3 separate regions of the Homo sapiens genome follow, and all the other regions are linked to region 1. Evidence: fine-mapped expression QTL. A gene starts in region 1. Each other region holds a variant in brackets. All regions are shown on one strand. Distances are between the middles of the regions.

The links. PIP is the estimated chance that this variant, and not a neighbour inherited with it, causes the effect.
Region 2: its variant is the best candidate, but not a certain one, in a credible set for the expression of INKA1 in whole blood (TOPMed, PIP 0.54).
Region 3: its variant is the best candidate, but not a certain one, in a credible set for the expression of INKA1 in skeletal muscle (GTEx, PIP 0.75).

Annotation. Positions count from the first base shown.
Region 1 is chr3:49,800,617-49,806,726 of GRCh38, reverse strand. INKA1 (inka box actin regulator 1) reads right to left here and starts at 3,466. Exons shown (of 2, transcript NM_203370.2): 1 at 3,284-3,466; 2 at 1,697-2,546. The coding sequence starts at 3,334. The coding sequence ends at 1,740. UBA7 (ubiquitin like modifier activating enzyme 7) reads left to right here. Exons shown (of 24, transcript NM_003335.3): 22 at 562-654; 23 at 730-830; 24 at 1,290-1,518. The coding sequence ends at 1,419. It overlaps MIR5193 (microRNA 5193), which reads left to right and starts at 482; the gene lies at 482-590. It also overlaps a transcript of CDHR4 not described here. RefSeq lists enhancers at 1-230, 217-511 and silencers at 3,190-3,629, 4,020-4,069.
Region 2 is chr3:49,757,564-49,763,673 of GRCh38, reverse strand. The region is part of intron 1 of IP6K1 (inositol hexakisphosphate kinase 1); the gene reads left to right. It also overlaps the pseudogene COX6CP14. Among named protein-coding and RNA genes, the nearest start is that of IP6K1, 26 kb to the left of the region's middle. The variant C/T (reference allele first, on the strand shown) is at 2,587.
Region 3 is chr3:49,656,411-49,662,520 of GRCh38, reverse strand. BSN (bassoon presynaptic cytomatrix protein) reads right to left here. Exons shown (of 12, transcript NM_003458.4): 5 at 4,325-6,110; 6 at 1-2,035. Among named protein-coding and RNA genes, the nearest start is that of APEH, 15 kb to the left of the region's middle. The variant C/T (reference allele first, on the strand shown) is at 2,495.

The DNA of each region.
Region 1 (6,110 bases):
TTCTGTCCTTAGCTCTAGGTCCCAGAACCCCAAGACTCTTGGAAGGAAGGAAGGGACAGGAGGAGGAAGCCTCTATGCATTGTATCCCTGCTGGGGTCTCTGGGACAGTGGGGCCCTGGTGGTCACTGTGCCCTTTGCCCCTGTGTCCCAATGAGTAGCCCAAGGCACTGGCAGTACATACAAGATTGGGGGACAGGATGTGCCCCCCAGCTCCCAGCCTTGTCTTTGAGGAACAAGCAGCTTTATCAGAGGCTGCAGGGGCCCTGCTCTGGGTTTCCTCAGGAAGCACCACCCCCTCATCCCCCACTCTCACAACTGGCCCATGTGATGGATCGTCTGTTTCCCTGTGCGGGCCCCATAGCCCCATTTCCTGTGCTGGCCCCGGCCTGGACGGGGAGGGGGCTGAGACTCTGGGCCCAGATCCCACCTCCCCCCCACCCCCCACCCCCTGGCTCCTGTTTCCTGCTAGTCCAGCTCTTCCCCTAGGAAAGGCTGCTGGTAACTGGGATGGGGGTTGGGGGGAGGTAAGAAGTCTCTGACTCCTCCTCTACCTCATCCCAGTTCCATCACCTGAAGTGGACCTCTTGGGACCGTCTGAAGGTACCAGCTGGGCAGCCTGAGAGGACCCTGGAGTCGCTGCTGGCTCATCTTCAGGTGTGCCCTGTTGCTACCCCAACCCCCAGGCTCAGCCCAGCCCGGCCCAGCTGGTGTCTGACCTTTCTCCTCTAGGAGCAGCACGGGTTGAGGGTGAGGATCCTGCTGCACGGCTCAGCCCTGCTCTATGCGGCCGGATGGTCACCTGAAAAGCAGGCCCAGCACCTGCCCCTCAGGTGAGCCCACTTGGGGCTTTAGACAGGCCCCACCAGTCCCTGGAGGCTGGGGCTAGGGACCACACTGCCTTTTGTCTTCCCAGCCCCATTCTGGGCCCCTCACACCTTCCCAAGCATTCTTTCCCCAAATGGAGCCAGCAAACAGGCTGGAGGTGGGGTGAGGGCCGAGAGCCTGAGGAGGAGTCTTCAGGAGCTGCCTATTTGGCCAGCCCCATGGGCTCCCCACATGCTGCACAGCCCCCCTTTCACAGCCCACTCCCAAGGGACCCATAGCTTCCTGCCTCCTGCTTGCCTCATCAGCTGCTCCTAAAATAGTTTCAGATGTTTCCTGTCTTGAGCAGCTCCTGCTCCTGGCTTGGGCTCCTGACGGCCTGCCAGCACCCTCTCTAGTCCATGCCAGGCTGCCTTCTGCTTGCCATGGCTCACCTCTCCAATCTCCCCTAAACCCACCCCTACCAGGGTGACAGAACTGGTTCAGCAGCTGACAGGCCAGGCACCTGCTCCTGGGCAGCGGGTGTTGGTGCTAGAGCTGAGCTGTGAGGGTGACGACGAGGACACTGCCTTCCCACCTCTGCACTATGAGCTGTGACAAGGCAGCCACCCTGTCACCTAGCTCAATGGAGCCCCGGATCCCAAGCCCTGCATTGTAAGCCCACAGTAGGCACTCAATAAATGCTTGTTAAAGGAAGGCATTGCAGAGAGGATGGACGATAGAAAACAGTGCACTAATGCACACGGGTGTGACATGGGCATGACAGGGACCTTCACACAGAGAAAAAAAGCTCTTCAGAAGATTTGTCTCCCTGGGCAGTGCCTCACAGGGCTGGGGCTGCCTCTTAGTGCCTCAGGGGTATGGAGCCAGGACAGTCTAGAAAAAAGGCTTTTATTGTCCCAGGCTGGAGGGCAGGGTCAGAGGTAGCTGACATCATTGCAGATGATGGGCTGGCGGCTACGACAGCTCATGAGAGCTGCAAAGCGTGAGACATCCGCAGGCAGTTCAGGTTCTGGGCGAGGTGGGCATGACAGCCGCTTTCCTGCCATAGCTGTCCGCCGAGCCCTGGCCAGCCGGCGCCGAAGCTGCTCAGAGAGGCCAAGCAGGAACTGAGGGGGCCGAGCACGGGCACGGTGCCCACCTCCGTCACCCCCTTCACTCCCTGTCTCAGGCAGCTCCATCCAGTTGTGCACCAAGTCAGCAAAGCAATTGTCCCCTAGTACCAGGGGCTGGCGACTGCGACCCCTGTTCAGTAGGGCTGCTGTCCAGTCCTCTGCTTCCAGTCCCTGCCAGTGCTCCAGGCAGGCGTCTGGGGTGGACTTGGGCCGTGGATGGTGGACAGGTGGTACACTGGCTACAGGGGCCCTGCTGGGCATGGGGAGGCCACTGACTGAGAGGCACTGCCTACGAAGGGGCTGTGCTGAGGGTGCTGGGCGCTGGGATACAGGCAGTTCTTCCTCTCGCCATGTGCTGCCTGACACCTCCGAGAAGCCAGAGTCCCAGTCCAGGGCATGCTCCCTGGGGCCTCCCAAGGCTGCATCCCTGTCTTCTGTCACCACTGCTTCCTCCTCCTCCTCTTCCTCCTCCTCCACACAGCAGACTGAGTCCTCTTCCAAGGCACCCGAGGCCCTAAGCTGGTGGCTGGGCTGCACATCTGGGCCAGTTTGGGAGGTTGGCTGCAGGGGACCAGGCATTGAGGGTGAGCCTGTGTCCCGACCACACAACTGAGGGGAAGAGAGGGCAGAAGTCGGAGAGGTATCACTTGTCACCAGGCCAGCCCAGAGAACAGAGGGTCCAGGAAGGTTAGATAGGCCTGCTGGCCTGGGCAGCAGGGTGTTAGTGAGCACAGGGCAGGCATAGGGGTGCTGGCACTCGAAGCTGGTGTGGTTCTCATCCACCGACCTGGTGGCAGTCTGGCAGGCTGCAGCATGCAGGGCCGGGCAAGTCGGCACCCGCCACCAGGGCGGGCGGGCAGGCAGGCAGGGTTGCGGGCCTGAACGGGGAAGTAGGTCCTGCCCAGGACTGGAGGGGCATCCCGTGCCTATTGGGGGATTCAGCTCCCAAAGCCCAAAGCGTCTTTCACAGAAAGAGCGCTTGCTAGGTGAGGGGTAGAGAAGGGAGGCATAGGCCAGCCTGAAGTAGGGGGCGTTCACAGCAGCGCCAGCACCTCGTTAGTCCCTTGCCGCCCCATGCCCCGCCCCCAAAGAAGTCCCCCTTCCACTCTCTCCTCCCGCGCCGTTCCAGCAGCACGGCCAGCTGGATGCTGTTATCTGATGCTCAGCTCAGTTCCCAACCGTCCGAAACCCGACGCGGGCCATCTGAGCCATATGCGCCACGCCGCCCCCACCCCGCCTCGGACCGGCACGCTGGAGCCACCCCGCACCCGTCTGTTGTTCCGGCCGGGCGGCAGCCTGGCATCCCGCACGCGTCCTCACTAACCACACCCGCTCCCGAGCCTCACCAGTTCCCAGCGGAGCTGGCTAAGGAAGCTGTCAAGCCGAGCGCTGTGCATGTCCATGCCAGGGCCCCCACCGAACCTACTAGCTCCTCTTGGAACCCCGGCGGAGCCGCGCGGAGAGGGCTGGGAGGGCCGGCCAGCGGCGCCCTCAGCCTCCGCCTGCCTGCGCGACTCCTCGCTCTCCGTAGCTCCCGCCGCCGCCGCCCCGACATCTGGCAGCCGCGCCCCGCCCCGGCCCCGCGGCCAAAGGGGGCGGGGCTAAAGCCCGGCGTCCCTCCCGACTCCGCCGCGGTTCTGGGTGGGAAGGGCGGGGTCATAACTGGAAGCCGGACGGGGCCGGTACGGGGACCCCCCGAGCCCCCAGACTGTTGAGTGGACCCTGCGTTTGCTGCGTGACGCAGGACAGGTCGCCTCCGTGCGGGGGCCTCATCCTCCCCGTTTGTTCAATGGTGAAATAGCGGTCCCTCTCACGGGGCGCCGTGCTGCGTCCGCACATAGGCAGAGCACCCCGGATGGTCGGACCCAGAGAGGTTGTGGACCCTCGGGGCCTGACCCACGGGACCCATTCGTGAGGCTGGCCTTGGCACTCCCTGAACGGGATGGAAGTGGGGTTCAGCCCGTCTGAGGACTCAAGAGAGGGCGGGACTTTGTGGCAGCGCACCGGCGGGGCCTCAGCCGCGTCCCAACCGAGCTAGACGGGACTGCCCTCTAGTGGGGAGTGCTTGGCTAGTCGCGAGTCCAGCGGCGACGCGCGACCGTCGGCATTCCCTTTGCCGGTACCAGGTGCAGACTGAGGGTCGGTGCTGAGGCTGCTCTATCAACACAGGCTAGGCTCAAGGGTAGTGTAGCTGCAGACAGACTGGACATACCAGCAACAGGAAAATACCAGGGAATGAGGGCCGTGGGCTAGCTTGGGGAAAGTCAGTCTCACAGGAGGTGACATCAAGATGCAATCAAGAAGAGGGGCATTCTGGCCGGGCGCGGTGGCTCACGCCTGTAATCCCAGCAGTTTGGGAGGCCGAGGCGGGCGGATCACGAGGTCAGGAGATCGAGACCATCCTGGCTAACATGGTGAAACCCCGTCTCTACTAAAAATACAAAAAAAATTAGCCGGGCGTGGTGGCGGGCGCCTGTAGTCCCAGCTACTCCTGAGGCTGAGGCAGGAGAATGGCGTGAACCCGGGAGGCGGAGCTTGCAGTGAGCGGAGATCGCGCCACTGCACTCCAGCCTGGGCGACAGAGTGAGACTCCGTCTCAAAAAAAAAAGAAAGGAAGAAGAAGCAGGAGGAGGAGAAGGAGAAGAAGGAGAAGGAGAAGAAGGAGAAGAAGAACATTCTAGGCAGAAGGAGCAGCCAGGGAAGAGACCCCGACGGACAGGAGCTGGACAGGGCCAAACATAAAGAAGGCCCAGGTGTCTGTGATTGGTGGTGGTGGCAGGAGGGAAAAGGTCAGCAAAACCAGGCTCTAACGGCCTTAGAGCAGAATGTGGGTTTTGTTCTTGGTGTGATGAGGAGCAATGGGGGCCTTTGAGCAGGAATGACCTGGGCTAGCCCTTGTTTAGATAATCCCAGCTGCTTTCAGAAAAGGATTCTGCAATAAGAGTGGAAGTCCCTGCCCTCATCCAGGCAACGAAGGGGAGGGCCTAGGCCTGGGCAGGGCAGGTGCACTGAAGGGGGTCACTTTGGGGTATGTTTTGGAACTAAAATCAAGTCTTGCTGATGCATGGATGTGGGCAGGAAAAGAGGCATCAAGCATGACTCCTACATTTCTGGCATTAACAGCTGGTTGGATGAAATTGCCATAAACTGATCTGGGAAAGACTGGAGAAGAGTGGGTTTGGAGAGGAAAATCCAATGATCATTTATGGACACGTAACCCTTGAGATGCCTGTTAGACATCCAAGAGGAGTTGCAGAGTCAGCTGCTAGGTGTATGACTCTGGACTTCAGGAGAGAGATCAGCACTGGAGCCTTGGATCTGGGAGGCATAGTGAGTGAATGGATGGTATGTAAGGCCATAGGCCTGGATAAGGTGGGGTGGGAGGAAATCAGTGTAGTCAGAGGGAGACAGCAATCGGGACTGTGCCCTGGGACATTCCATGAGGTGGAGGTAGGGGAGATATGAAGCAGAGCTATCAAAGAAGCTGAGCAGGAACAGCCAGGAGAAATCTGAGAATGTGGGGACTCAGGACCCAAGGGGAGCAAGCATTGAATGCTGCCTAGGCAGTGAGGGTGAAGAACAAACCACTGGATTCGGCAGTGCATAGGTCACTGGGAACCCTGACAAGGGCAGTTTTGTGTAGAGAGGGACAAGCCTGATTAGAGTGTGTGGAGAAGAGAGTGAGGACTGAAGAACTGGAGATGGCAAATAAAGACAACCGTTTTTGTTTTTTTTTTTGAGACAGGGCCTCACTCTGTCACCCAGGCTGGAGTGCAGTGGCATGATCTTGGCTCACTGCAGCCTCCATCTCTGGGGCTCAAGTGACCCTCCTATCTCAGCCTCTCAAGTAACTGGGACTACAGGCATGTGCCACCACACTCAGCTAATTTTTTTTTTTTTTTTTTTTGTAGAGACAGGGTTTCACCATGTTGTCCAGGCTGGTCTCGAACTCCTGATCTCAAACGATCCTCCTGCCTCAGCCTCCCATACAGGCATAAGCCACCGTGCCTGGCCAGAAAACTTAAAAAAACTGACATATAAATACAATAAATAGACAGATCTCAAAGTTACAGCCCAGTAAATGTTAAAATCTGTAGACACTTGTGCAGCTGCCACCCAGATATAGAACATCCTCAGCAACTCCTGGATGCCACCTGGTGCCCTATCCAACTG
Region 2 (6,110 bases), 43 kb after region 1:
ATTGAGATGATTACATCTTATGGCTTTTCTCCTTATTTCTGTTAATATGATGAGTAGTAATACTGATTGATTCTTTAGATGTTTAATCAACCTTGCATTTCCCACTTTGTCATGAGGGATTCTTTCTATATATCATTGGAATTGTTTTGCTAAAAATTTTTGAAGATTTTTGTATCTGTATTCATGAAGGACATTGTTCTAAAATCTTTTTTCTTATTTATTTTGTTAAGGTTCTTTTTTAGGTTTTGTTATTAGAAATAATTGACCTTGGCCGGGCGCGGTGGCTCATACCTGTAATCCCAGCACTTTGGGAGCCCGAGGCGGGTGGATCACGAGGTCAGGAGATCGAGACCATCCTGGCTAACACGGCGAAACCCCGTCTCTACTAAAAAATACAAAAAAAATTAGCCGGGTGTGTGGCGGGCGCCTGTAGTCCCAGCTGCTGGGGAGGCTTAGGCAGGAGAATGGTGTGAACCCGGGAGGCGGAGCTTGCAGTGAGCCGAGATTGCGCCACTACACTTCAGCCTGGGTGACAGAGCGAGACTCCGTCTCAAAAAAAAAAAAAAAAAGAAATAATTGACCTTGGCCAGGCATGGTGGCTCACGCCTATAATCCCAGCACTTTGAGAGGCTGAGGCAGGTGGATCACTTGAGGCAGGTGGATCACTTGAGGTCAGGAGTTTGAGACCAGCCTGGCCAACGTGGTGAAACCCCGTCTCTACTAAAAATACACAAATTAGCTGGGCGTGGTTGTGCGCTCCTATAATCCCAGCTACTCAGGAGGCTGAGGCAGGAGAATCACTTGAACCTGGGAGACAGAGGTTGCCATGAGCTGGGATTGTGCCATGCACTCCAGCCTGGGTCACAGAGTAAGATTATGTCTGAAAAAAAAAAAGCAATAATTGACCTCGTAAAACAAGTTGGGAACTACTCTCTTTCTCTCTCTTTCTGTTTTCTGAAAAAAAATTATGTAAGATTGATATTTCTTTCTTAAAAGTTTGATAGAATTCACTAGTGAAACCTAGTCTGGAGTTTTCTTCGTGGAAAGATTTTTGATCGCAGACTCAGTTTTCTTAATAGATATAGGAGTGTTCAGATTATTATTATTATTATTATTATTATTTTGAGACAGAGTCTCGCTCTGTTGCCCAGGTTTGAGTGCAGTGGCACGATCCTGGCTCACTGTAACCTCTGCCTCCCGGGTTCAAGTGATTCTTCTGCCTCAACCTCCCAAGTAGGGCAAGTAGCTATGATTACAGGCGCCCGCCACCTTGCCAGCTAATTTTTGTATTTTTAGTAGAGACGGGGTTTCACCATGTTGGCCAGGTTGGTCTCAGTCTCCTGACCTCATGGTCCGCCTGCCTCAGCCTCCCAAAGTACCGGGATTGCAGGTGTGAGCCACCACACCCGGCCTGTTCTTTCTTAAAGATGCTTGTGGCTCTTGCCTGTAATCCCAGCACTTTGGGAGGCTGAGGTGGGTGAATCACTTGAGTACAGGAGTTTGAGACCAGTCTGGGCCACATGATGAAATCCTGTCTTTACAAAAAATACAAAAATTATCTGGGCATGGTGGTGCATACCTGTAGTTTTAGTTACTCTCAGGGCTGAGCTGGGAGGATCGTTTGAGCCCAGTAAGCAGAGGTTACAGTGAGCCAAGATCGTGCCAGGCCACTTCAGCATGGGCAACAGTGAGACCCCATCTCACCAGAAAAAATAAATGAAAGAGAGAGAGACAGGGTTTCACTCTGTCACCCAGGCTGGAGTGCAATGGTGCAATCATGGCTTACTGTAACCTCAAACTCCTGGTCTTAAGTAATCTCGGTGCCTCAGCCTCCAAACTGGGACTGCATGTACCACCATGCCTGCCTAATTTTCATTTTTTCTGTAGAGACAGAGTCTTTCTCTGTTGACCAGGGTGCTCTTGAACTCCTGGCCTCAAGTCATCCTCCTGCCTTGGTCTCCTGAAATGTTGGGTTTACAGGTGCAAGCCATCACACCTGGCCTTTTTTCTAAGTTGTTAATGAGAACCTTAGGTTATTAATTTTTTTTTTTTTTTTTTTTGAGACGGAGTCTCGCGCTGTTGCCCAGGCTGGAGTGCAGTGGCACGATCTTGGCTCACTGCAAGCTCCGCCTCCCGGGTTCACGCCATTCTCCTGCCTCAGCCTCTCAAGTAGCTGGGACTACAGGTGCCTGCCATTGCGCCCGGCTAATTTTTTGTATTTTTAGTAGAGATGGGGTTTCACCATGGTCTTGATCTCCTGACCTCGTGATCCGCCCGCCTCGGCCTCCCAAAGTGCTGGGATTACAGGAGTGAGCCACCACGCCCGGCCAGGTCATTAACTTTATAGGTTTTTTCTTTTGGAGATGGAGTTTCACTCTGTCGCCAGGCTGGAGTGCAGTGGCACGATCTCCGCTCACTGCACCCTCCACCTCCCGGGTTCAAGTGATTCTCCTGCCTCGGCCTCCCGAGTAGCTGGGACTACAGGCGCCCACCACCATGCCCAGCTAATTTTTTGTATTTTTAGTAGAGACAGGGTTTCACCGTGTTGGCCAGGATGGTCTCGATCTCTTGACCTCGTGATCCATT[C/T]GCCTCGGCCTCCCAAAGTGCTGGGATTACAGGTGTGAGCCACCACGTCCGGCCAGTTTTACAGGTTTTTTGCAATACTTTTAGACTTTAAAACGTTAGCATTGCTTTAGCTGAATCAGTATAGCATATATTTGAAAAGTGTTTTTTCATATATTACCTCACTCTGAGAAGTAGATAAGTAATCTCAAATCTGTTGACAGGGAAAATAGGTGAATTGGCACATTGAAGGGTACATAATTTGTTAATTGTGGCATTGATTTTTTCACATGGTTTCTGACTCCCAGAATCCTGAGAGCTCTGCATGTTCAGGCTGTTTAATTCCTGATGTCACATGAGAGTCAGGAAAGGAAGTTGAGGGAGTGGAGAAATTTGGAGAAATTTGGAAACTGCTCTTAAGGAATGATGTATCTTTGGAACCACCTCTCCGCTTTTTGCTTTTCACTTTTTTTTTTTTTTTTTTTTTTGAGACGAAGTCTCACTCTGTTGCCCAGGCTGGAGTGCAGTGGCACTATCTCGGCTCACTGCAACCTCTGCCTCCCGGGTTCAAGTGATTCTCCTGCCTCAGCCTCACGAGTAGCTGGGATTACAGGTGCCTGCCACCATGCCCGACTAATTTTTGTATTTTTAGTAAAGACGGGGTTTCACCGTGTTGGCCAGACTGTTCTTGAACTCCTGACCTCAAGTGATCTGCCCACCTCGGCCTCCCAAAGTGTTGGAATTACAGGCTTGAGCCACTGCGTCCAGCCTCCACCTGTCTGCTTTTCTAAGTTGGGAAGTTGTTGATGGGTTTGCGTAGGTGAAGGTTAGTCCCCATCTCTCTGAAACTATGGGTTGTCTATGAGGTGGACAGAAGTGCTTTTCTAATATTTAAAGTACTTAACAGTAATAATTAGGCTGGGCATGGTGGTTCAGGCCTATAATTGCAGCACTTTGGGAGGCCAAGGCAGGAGGATCACTTGAAGCTGGGAGATGGAGACCAGCGTGGGCAATAAAGTGAGACCTCATCTCTACAAAAAAAAGGAAGGGAAAATAGCTGGGTGGCCTGTAGTCCCAGCCACTCAGGAAGCTGAGGTGGGAAGGATCGCCTGAGCCCAAGAATTCAAGTTGTAGTAACCCGTGATCGTGCCACTGCATTCCATCCTGGGTGACAGAGTGAGACCCTGTCTCGAAAGAAAGAAAAAACAATAATTCTGGTATTTCACTAGAGGGTTGGAAGACAGCTGGAATCTAATCTGCTTGAAGCAGTCAAACTTGATGGCATTTTGTGAGGCATTATGCTGGTTGTTCACCCCTTGTTATAGGTTTTCTTCACGTATTTACTTCACATAGTCTACTAATTTCCATGTTGCTGATCTGCTTCTGGGTAACCTTTAATAAAGTCGTTTTTTGTTGTTGTTGTTGTTGTTTTGTCCACCTAGTCTAAGACTCTAATAAAATCTTTATCTACATGATGGATGTTCAAATAGATGGTCATTATGTTGCCTCCAGGATGTGTGGTGTCTGAAAGAGGGAGTTTCTGTAGAGTTTGTGCCCTGAAATCTCCTTACACTGTTTTCTAAATGTCTAACTATATAAGAAATATGCTGTTTGGCCCTTGAGATGGAGGTCCAATAGGAACACAGGATGCTAGGAACTTGGTCCTTGGAGGAGAGAACTGGAGCTGGTCCCTGGCCATATGTGGGAGTAACAGCACATTATCTCAAAAGAATAAAACTCATTGGAGTTGTATTTTGTGGTGGACGTTTTGCCTTAGTCTCTAACTGCAGCTGAATACATCTGTGTCTGTGTCTGAAGAATTTGATCTTTGACTATATTTTCAGATAATCTTCAGAGTAGTATAAGCATCAAGGCATTTAAATGATTTCACCCCCAAAGGAAGAGTCCTCCAGATTTTAGCCATATCTGATTTTTAGTGCCTCTCAGAATTCAGTGATTTAAAACTGCTTTGGAGTCCTAACAGTTTTGTGGTGTCATTGAGATACCATAGAAAGATAGAAGGTATTTTTTTTTTAATTGTTTATTTATCAAGATAAACTATTTGCTAGCCCACATATTCATGTTTCATAGTTCAGGAACACAGGTTAGTGACAAAACTAATAGGAAATTCAACCCAAAGAAACTGTTGGGTATTTTTTTTTTTTGAGACAGAGTCTCGCTCTGTCATCCAGGCTGGATCTTGGCTCACTGTAACCTCCGCCTCCTGGGTTCAAGCGATTCTCCTGTCTCAGCCTCCCAGAGTAGCTGGGATTACAGACATGCGCCACCACACCTGCTATATTTGTATTTTTAGTAGAGATGAGGTTTCACCATGTTGGTCAGACTGATCTCAAACTCCTGACCTCAGGTGATCTGCCTGCCTCACCTCCCAAAGTGTTGGGATTACAGGCATGAGCCATTACGCCTGGCCAAAGAAACTCCTTATATTCCAAAATTACTTTGCACTCTGAAAGATACTAGCTTTTCTCATCTAAAATTCTTTCATGAAGTCATAATTTCTGTAGAAATCTGGGTATGCCTTCTTTCTTGGTTCAGCCACAGCAAATTTACAGAGAACTACGGCTCCCAGGGATACAACGAATGCTCCACCAATATGAAACTGCAGACGTGCTGTGGTAGTTACTGTCCTTGATAGGTATGTCAGCCTCATTACCAGTGTTCTTCCTGGCTGATGGAGAAGTGGATGGCCAGCAGCTATTTCATAGTTGTATAATTCCTTACTCTGGAGAGTTTTCTTGTTTAAAGCTAGTAACCTTTTTTTTTTTTTTTTTTTTTTGAGATGGAGTCTTGTTCTGTCACCCCAGGCTGGAGTGTAGTGGTGCGATCTCAGCTCACTGCAACCTCCGCCTCCCAGGCTCAAGCGATTCTCCTGCTTCAGCCTGTCGAGTAGCTGGGACTGACTACAGGCGCCCGCCACCATGCCTGGCTAATTTTTTTGTACTTTTAGTAGAGACGGGGTTTCACTGTATTAGCCAGGATGGTCTTGATCTCCTGACCTCGTGATCCACCTGCCTCGGCCTCCCAAAGTGCTGGGATTGCAGGCGTAAGCCACTGCGCCTGGCCACTAGTAACCATTTTTGATAGGGGGTCCTAAATAAAGCCCCCAGATAATCTAAAAAGGTCAATGCTGTGACCAGAGCTTTGGCTTCACCTTTCCTAGATGTATGAAATTTTATTGCCATGTTTTCCCTTTTTTAATAATAGGACACATGTGAATATTGCTAATATAAGGTAGTAGATTTGTACCTAAGATGAACTCCATGTATAAAACCAGTGTTATAGATAATTGAAATTAGCGTGAGTGACAAGAGCTTTTATTTGTGTTCTGAAATGGAGAGAGAGCAGTTTTTTTATTTTTTATTTTTATTTTTGAGACAGGGACTCACTTTGTTACCCAGGCTGGAGTGTAGTGGCGCAATCTTGGCTCACTGCAACCTCCGCCTTCCAGGCTCAAGCAATCCTCCTGTCTCAGCCCCTCAAGTAGCTGGGACTATAGGCATGAGCCACCAAGCCTGGCTAATTTTTTT
Region 3 (6,110 bases), 140 kb after region 1:
AGCCCTCCTCACGCTTATATGCGTGGGCCCGAGGTCCGTCCTTGACATGTTCCTGGACATCAGGCATGGAGTGGCTGGAGCAGAACTGTGGGCAGGTATCCCCGCCGGGAGGGAGGGGCCCTCCGGCAGGGCGGGGCCTCCCCAAAGGACTGACGGGGCTCTCCTCTTCAGAGGCCTGGCTCCGCATGGGGGGTCGTACCCGGCTGTGGGCCATACTTAGGGATGAGGGCTTGGGGCCCGCTTTTTGAAGTCGCTCCACAGCCTCCCGTTCCCTTTCGTACCCCTTGCCCCAGCCACTGAAGTCGTGGCTGGACAGCTTCTCCCCACTGTATGCAGAAGGTGCCCGGGACCGGCTGCTCCCGCCATAAATGCGGTCGTCCTCCACTGCGTCCCGGCTGGACATCCCATAGTATTTTTGCTGCTCATACACGTTCTTCTTGAGCCCATAGGTGATTTCATCCTGGAACTTCCTGCCCCGAGAGACCAGGCTGCTGCTGACTGCAGGTGGGGGGTAGGACGCCAGGTCTGACTCTACGTCTTTGGCCTCTTCAATAGGCGAGAACTTGGATATCTTTTGCTCCATGCCCTGCTTCCGGTGCTTGCTGCGCTTTGAGGAGATGGCAGCTGGAGCCAGGCTCTTGGAGGGATGCTTGGGCCCCATGGGCCCTGGACCATACTTCTCTACTCGAGCCCCATGCCTGTAGTCACTGTCACCATAGTAGTGGGTACTGGCTGGTCGACCATTGCTCTCCATGCTCCGGAGGTGGCCACCCTTCCCGCGGGGATCGTATGAGTCCTCCTCAGATTCCTCTTCTCCTCTGGCATAGCAGCAGGGCAGTGTGGGCCCGTCAAGGACACCTGGTTCTCCAGGCTCCTTCCCTGGACGCCCACTGCTGCCTGGCCCCAGGGGCTCCAGCCGTTGGCTATCAGGAGCAGTAGAGGTGCTGTCCTTGGTCAGTTCACTGATGTCATCAATCATTACGTAGTTTCGAGGAACGTTCTGCTCCAGACTGGTATAGTGTGAGTCAGAGGGGTAGGTGGGGGCTGGGCTCTGGCTCACACTGCCACGGTCACCAGCCCGGGGCACCTCAGGGACCTTGCCCTGCTCATAGCCGCTGCTCACTGCTGGGCCACTGTAGCTGGTTTCAGATGGGGCTGAAGACATGGGCACAACGGGGCTGGCGATCACCTCATAGTTGGTGGGCACCTTCTGCTCCAAGTCGGCTAGCGATGTCTGGCGTGGCTTCTGCAGTGGGGCACGGCTATCAGCGGGGACTGGAAAAAGGGTGCTCTGTGTGGTTGGCATGGGTGTTTGGCCTGCATAGTGGCCTGTGGGGCGGAAAGCCTGCTGGTTTGGCAGGCCAGGCTCAGCTGGGTAACTGGCACCAGGAGGAAAGGCAGGAGCTGGGTACGTGCTGGGGCCAGGGTAGGTGGGGGCCTGGTGGGCTGGGAATCCGTTCTGAGTTGGCCCACCACTGCCTGCAGAATACTGTGGGGCTGGAGGCTGGAAGCGGGGCTGCTGGAAGGCAGTGGGACCAGAGGGGGTGGCAGGAGCAGCGGCAGTGGCAGGGAAGTCCACAAACTGGCCAGCGGGAGTGGTGCAGCCCTGGAGCCGCAGCTGGTTGAGCTCACTGTCCGATAGGTAGTCACGATGCTCGCCAAGACCACGCAAGGGTGGGTAGTCACGGCCACCCCGGTCTTTGGCCAAAGACTCTTTGCGTTGTGTGATACCCAACTCCAGGTACTTGAGCTTGGCGTCAATCTCCTTCTCCTCCTCATCCAGCTCTGCCTGCTTCTTGCGCAGTTTGGTGGACTCATGCTCCACCAGCCGCAGGTCCCGGTCCAGCTCCCGGAGCAGGCTGGCCTTGGTAGCAGGGACAGTGGTGGGCCCCGTCAGCCCTCGCTGCAGCAGGCTGGCTGCATACAGCTGTGGGGAGGCCTGGCCAGCCAGGGGAAGGTGAGCCTCCTCTGGAGGGGGGCTGGGCAGTGTCCGCTTCACCTTGCGGACCAGGCTGTTGGGTGGCAACGCCGACACCTGAGACAGAGGGAAGGGTGGGCAGCACTGAGACCCAAGGTGTGGTGACTTGATGGGGTGTGGGGTGGCAGAACCCAGGCCTGGGCTGGGGAAGGAGCTGGGTTCCATCTTGCTGGTGCCCTGATTTACCAGGCAGCCTGGAGGCCTACCCTGCCCACCCATAGGCCTTGGTTTCTTTGCCATAGAGGGAAGATCTGTGATTATTTTACAGCCCTTCTCTTTCCCAGAGCTTTGGGAAGCAGGAGGGTACGGGCAGATTCCCTTCATGCCAATGTCCTGTACTGGCCCAGCACATGGCTTTGAGAACCCCTGCACATCTCCAATGGGCCTGCCACCCTCTGCCTCACATTGAGGTAAGAAGAGTACAGCTGTGGCTCTGGGTTTGGGGCCTAGCAGCTGACAGGGGTTGAGATCAGTGGAGTATGAACAGGAGGCATGGAGTGGAGAGGGTCCTGGGCC[C/T]GCCAGGCTCCCTAGAGGATCATGGGAAGGGACACATGTAGATTGTATGCCAATCGTGGCAGGCTCTGAGTCATTCTGCATCCTGCCCTAGTCCTCTCTAAAGTGGAAGGCTCCTCAGCTGCCTGCCCACCCTCTTCCTCTAGTGCCCTGCACTGCCCTCTGCCAAACCCTCTGGGCTGTGCTCTTGGCCTGGTCCCCAGCTCCCTCCATGTCCCTCGGTCAACCTGCTGTTCTCTGGAGCCACCAGTGCACCCGTAAGTCCTATCCAGCCCTACCTCCAGCAGCATGGCTTCCTGGTCAAGGTTCCCTAACAGTGCCTACCATGGGGTCCTCCTTGCCTACCCTAGACACTCTGCATTGCCTGAAGGTCCACATTGCCTGGTAGTTCACTCTGTCTTCTCCCTTTTTCTCTCGCTCCTAGCCTTCCCAGAATGCCCCATGCCCTTGGGTTTCATGGACCACCCAAATTCCAATATATACTGGGAAGTGACTCCTATAGGATTCTTACTTTTTACCTTGCCAAGTAACTACCTAAAAACCTCCCACCTACATCCACCATATGTCATAATAAAAATTATAGTGTGCCCTCAAAATTTCAGGGTGGGCCTTTTATGGAATAAATTTAGCCTTTTGAACCCCTCACTCTGTTGTCTCTTTTCTTATTTTGGCCACGCATCATGAGTGCCTATCATGGCCTGGTCTCACATGGCCAGCCCATGGGACCTCTGTGCCTGCAGCCAGGACCACCCTGCCTCTCTGACCTGCCCTCCCTGCCAGCCTAGAGTCCTGATCCCACCCACACCCCTATATGGCCTGCATACACCAAGACTTCACTACCCAAGATTATCACCTCCACAAACCCCATTCTAAGGCTCCACTTTTCTCGTCTCTGTGTCACACCCTGAAAATGGGCAAATCTACCTTACGATGCCTCTGGCTCCTGCCTCCTCTGCCAGGTCTCTTCCTTCAGCCCACCCTCCCACATTCTGCCCAGGAAACTTTCCAAAACATCTGCTTTGTCCCATCTCACATGCCTAAAACCTCCAGAGGCTTCCAGGGTCTTTAGGAAAAGCCCATCCTCCTCAGCCTGGCACTCAGTTGTTGGCATTAGGCCCTCACAACCCTCTATTCTCACTTTGGCTGCAGCCCACAGCCAAGCCACTTCTCACAGTCCCCATCCATCACTGGCAAATAAAGCCACAACCAAGGGTAAGCTTATGCTTCTGAATCCCCTATCTAGGGGAGCAGACAGATGTGTAAACAGATTTACCGAGGGCCAGGTAGGGGCAGAGAACACCCTGGGGCAGAGAGCACACTGCAGCCCGCTGGGATGGGCCTCTAGTGCTAGGCCATAGGGGTGTGGGCTTCCTGTGTGGCAATGGAAACCAGGCCAGGACTGAGAGGACGAGAGCAGCCGCGCCAGGTTCATATGACTGATTTTCTTAGGAAACACCCATAGATTAAGTTTGGAGTGGAAGGGGTCCAGACTAGAAGTGAGAGCTGAAGAGGCCTAAAGGGGGAGGTAGCAGGGGCTGGACCAGGTGTGGGTGGTGAAGGGACAGTGCTGGGAGGAGGCTGAAGCTTCTAGTAGGGTATGTGGCTGGAAGGCTGTGGGGGCCCATGTGTGTGTCTGTATCTGCCAGGCTGTCTGCCGGGCTGCAGGCTCTTTCAGATGTGCACCAGGGAGCATCTGCTCATTGACTCTTTCCCCTGGGCCTCTGGGGCCAGAGATGCCTCTACTCCCACCCCAGAAGAAGCCCCTCCCTGTGGGGGCCCCTCGGGCTAGGCAGAGACCCCTGTCCCACCCTGGAACAGCCCCTGTTCCCATACCTGGCTACCCAGTCCCCCCTGGTGCTGGTAGAGGGAGAATCTCTCTTTGGCAGACTCTTCGGCGGTGGGGCTGAGGGGCTTAGGGTCAGACAGGGACCGCTGCAGGGTCTTCATGGGGCGAGGCAGCGTCTGCTGGCGGAGAGCGCTGTCAGCCGTGAAGTGCTTCTGGGGACTCACGTGAGCTTTGTTCAGCCTCTCACTGGAAGCAAAGGAGGTGTCCAGGAGCCGGTGAGGGGACAGGGGTGAGACTGGTGAGTAGAGGACCTGAGGGGACTTGGGAGGCTGGCGGCTCACAAGCTGTGAGAGAGACTCCGGAGGCAGGTGGGCCTGGTACCCAATCTCCAGGGGATCTGGCTTCTTTTTTTCAAATCTGCCCAGAGGCCCTGGGGTGACGATCTGGATGCCAGGCAGGTAGGGGCTGATGGCAGTTGGCCCTACAAGCTGCGGCCCGGCTACACCCTGGGCCTGCCCATCTGGCTCCGTCTGGCAGGCCAGGCTCTCCCCACGCCCAGTCTTCTCTGGCGCCGATATGTACCTGACGATCTCCACCTTGGGATCGGTGGCAGCTGTGATGTGGATGGCTGGAGAGACCCTGGGCAGCTGGTCAGGCTCCGTCTGCACGGAGCAGTCACTGATGGTCTGGATGCCCACGCTGCTCATGGCCCTCACAGTGGCAGCAGCACTGGATGATGAGGCAGTGGCATCGTGCTTGCTGTCAGAGCCTGAGTCTGAGTGGCGGGGAAGACGAGACCTGCGGCGGCGCACTGGCTGCTCCCACTCAGCACTGTCTTCGTCGTCCGTCTGCACACTGCAGTCAGCACTCCGCCGTGCCCGGCGTCGCCGACTCAAGAGGTAGCGGCTCTCCCCATCCTCATCGTCTGTCTGCACGCTGCTGTCGGCAATCCTCCTGACCACACAGGGCTCAGTCCCAGACTCTAGCTCACAGGCATCCCGCAGGCGTGGCATGGAGTGCCGCTTCTTGATGCCACTACGGCTGGCCTCCCACTGCTCCTCCGTTTGCAGTGACATGTCTGAGGCAGAGCTGGGGAGACCCCGGTGCAGCACAGGCTCACGAGGCTGCCCAAGTCCTTCAGGCCCTGCCATGGCAATGAAGGCTGCATGTGTAAGGGGGGGCCAATACTGGCCATTCTGGGCCAACTCAGCAGCCGCTAGGGGAGGCCCTCGGCCAGGTGCCTCACAGGCTGCAGGAAAGGGAGCCTTCTGCCGCTGCTTCTGCTCCTCTAGCTGCTGCTGCAGCTGCTGCTGCAGCTGCTGGATCTGCTCCAGCTGCAGACGCTGCTGCGCTAGCTGTTCCCGCTGCAGTGCAAATTGAGCCTGGCGTTCCTCTTGCTGCTGCTGCAGCACATGGTGCTTGATGGTCTGCAGCTCCTGCAACTCCCGCTGCACCAGCAGCTGCTCCTCCTCACGGTGCCTCTGCAGCTCCACACGTTCCCGCTCTAGCTCCTCTTGCAGCCGAAGTTGTCGCAGCTTCTCCAACTCCACCCGCTCCCGCTCTAGCTGGAGCAGCTGCTCCTGTTGCTTCCGCTGCCTCTCCTCCTGTGATGCTTCCTCTTTCTCGAACCCTGGCCGGCTGAGGGCCCCACTGCCACCCCCAGGAGCAGCATCTGCTGGTGGCTTCTGGCCAGCTAGTGGGGCAGGAGCTGGGGCTCCTGCAGCCTCCTTGATGGCAGCAGGGGTGGTTGTGGGAAGAGGCTCTTCCCGTGCAGCCCCTACTGGCATCTCTGGCCTTGAAGGGCCCCCAGCCCCAGGGGCCTTGGCAGCAGCA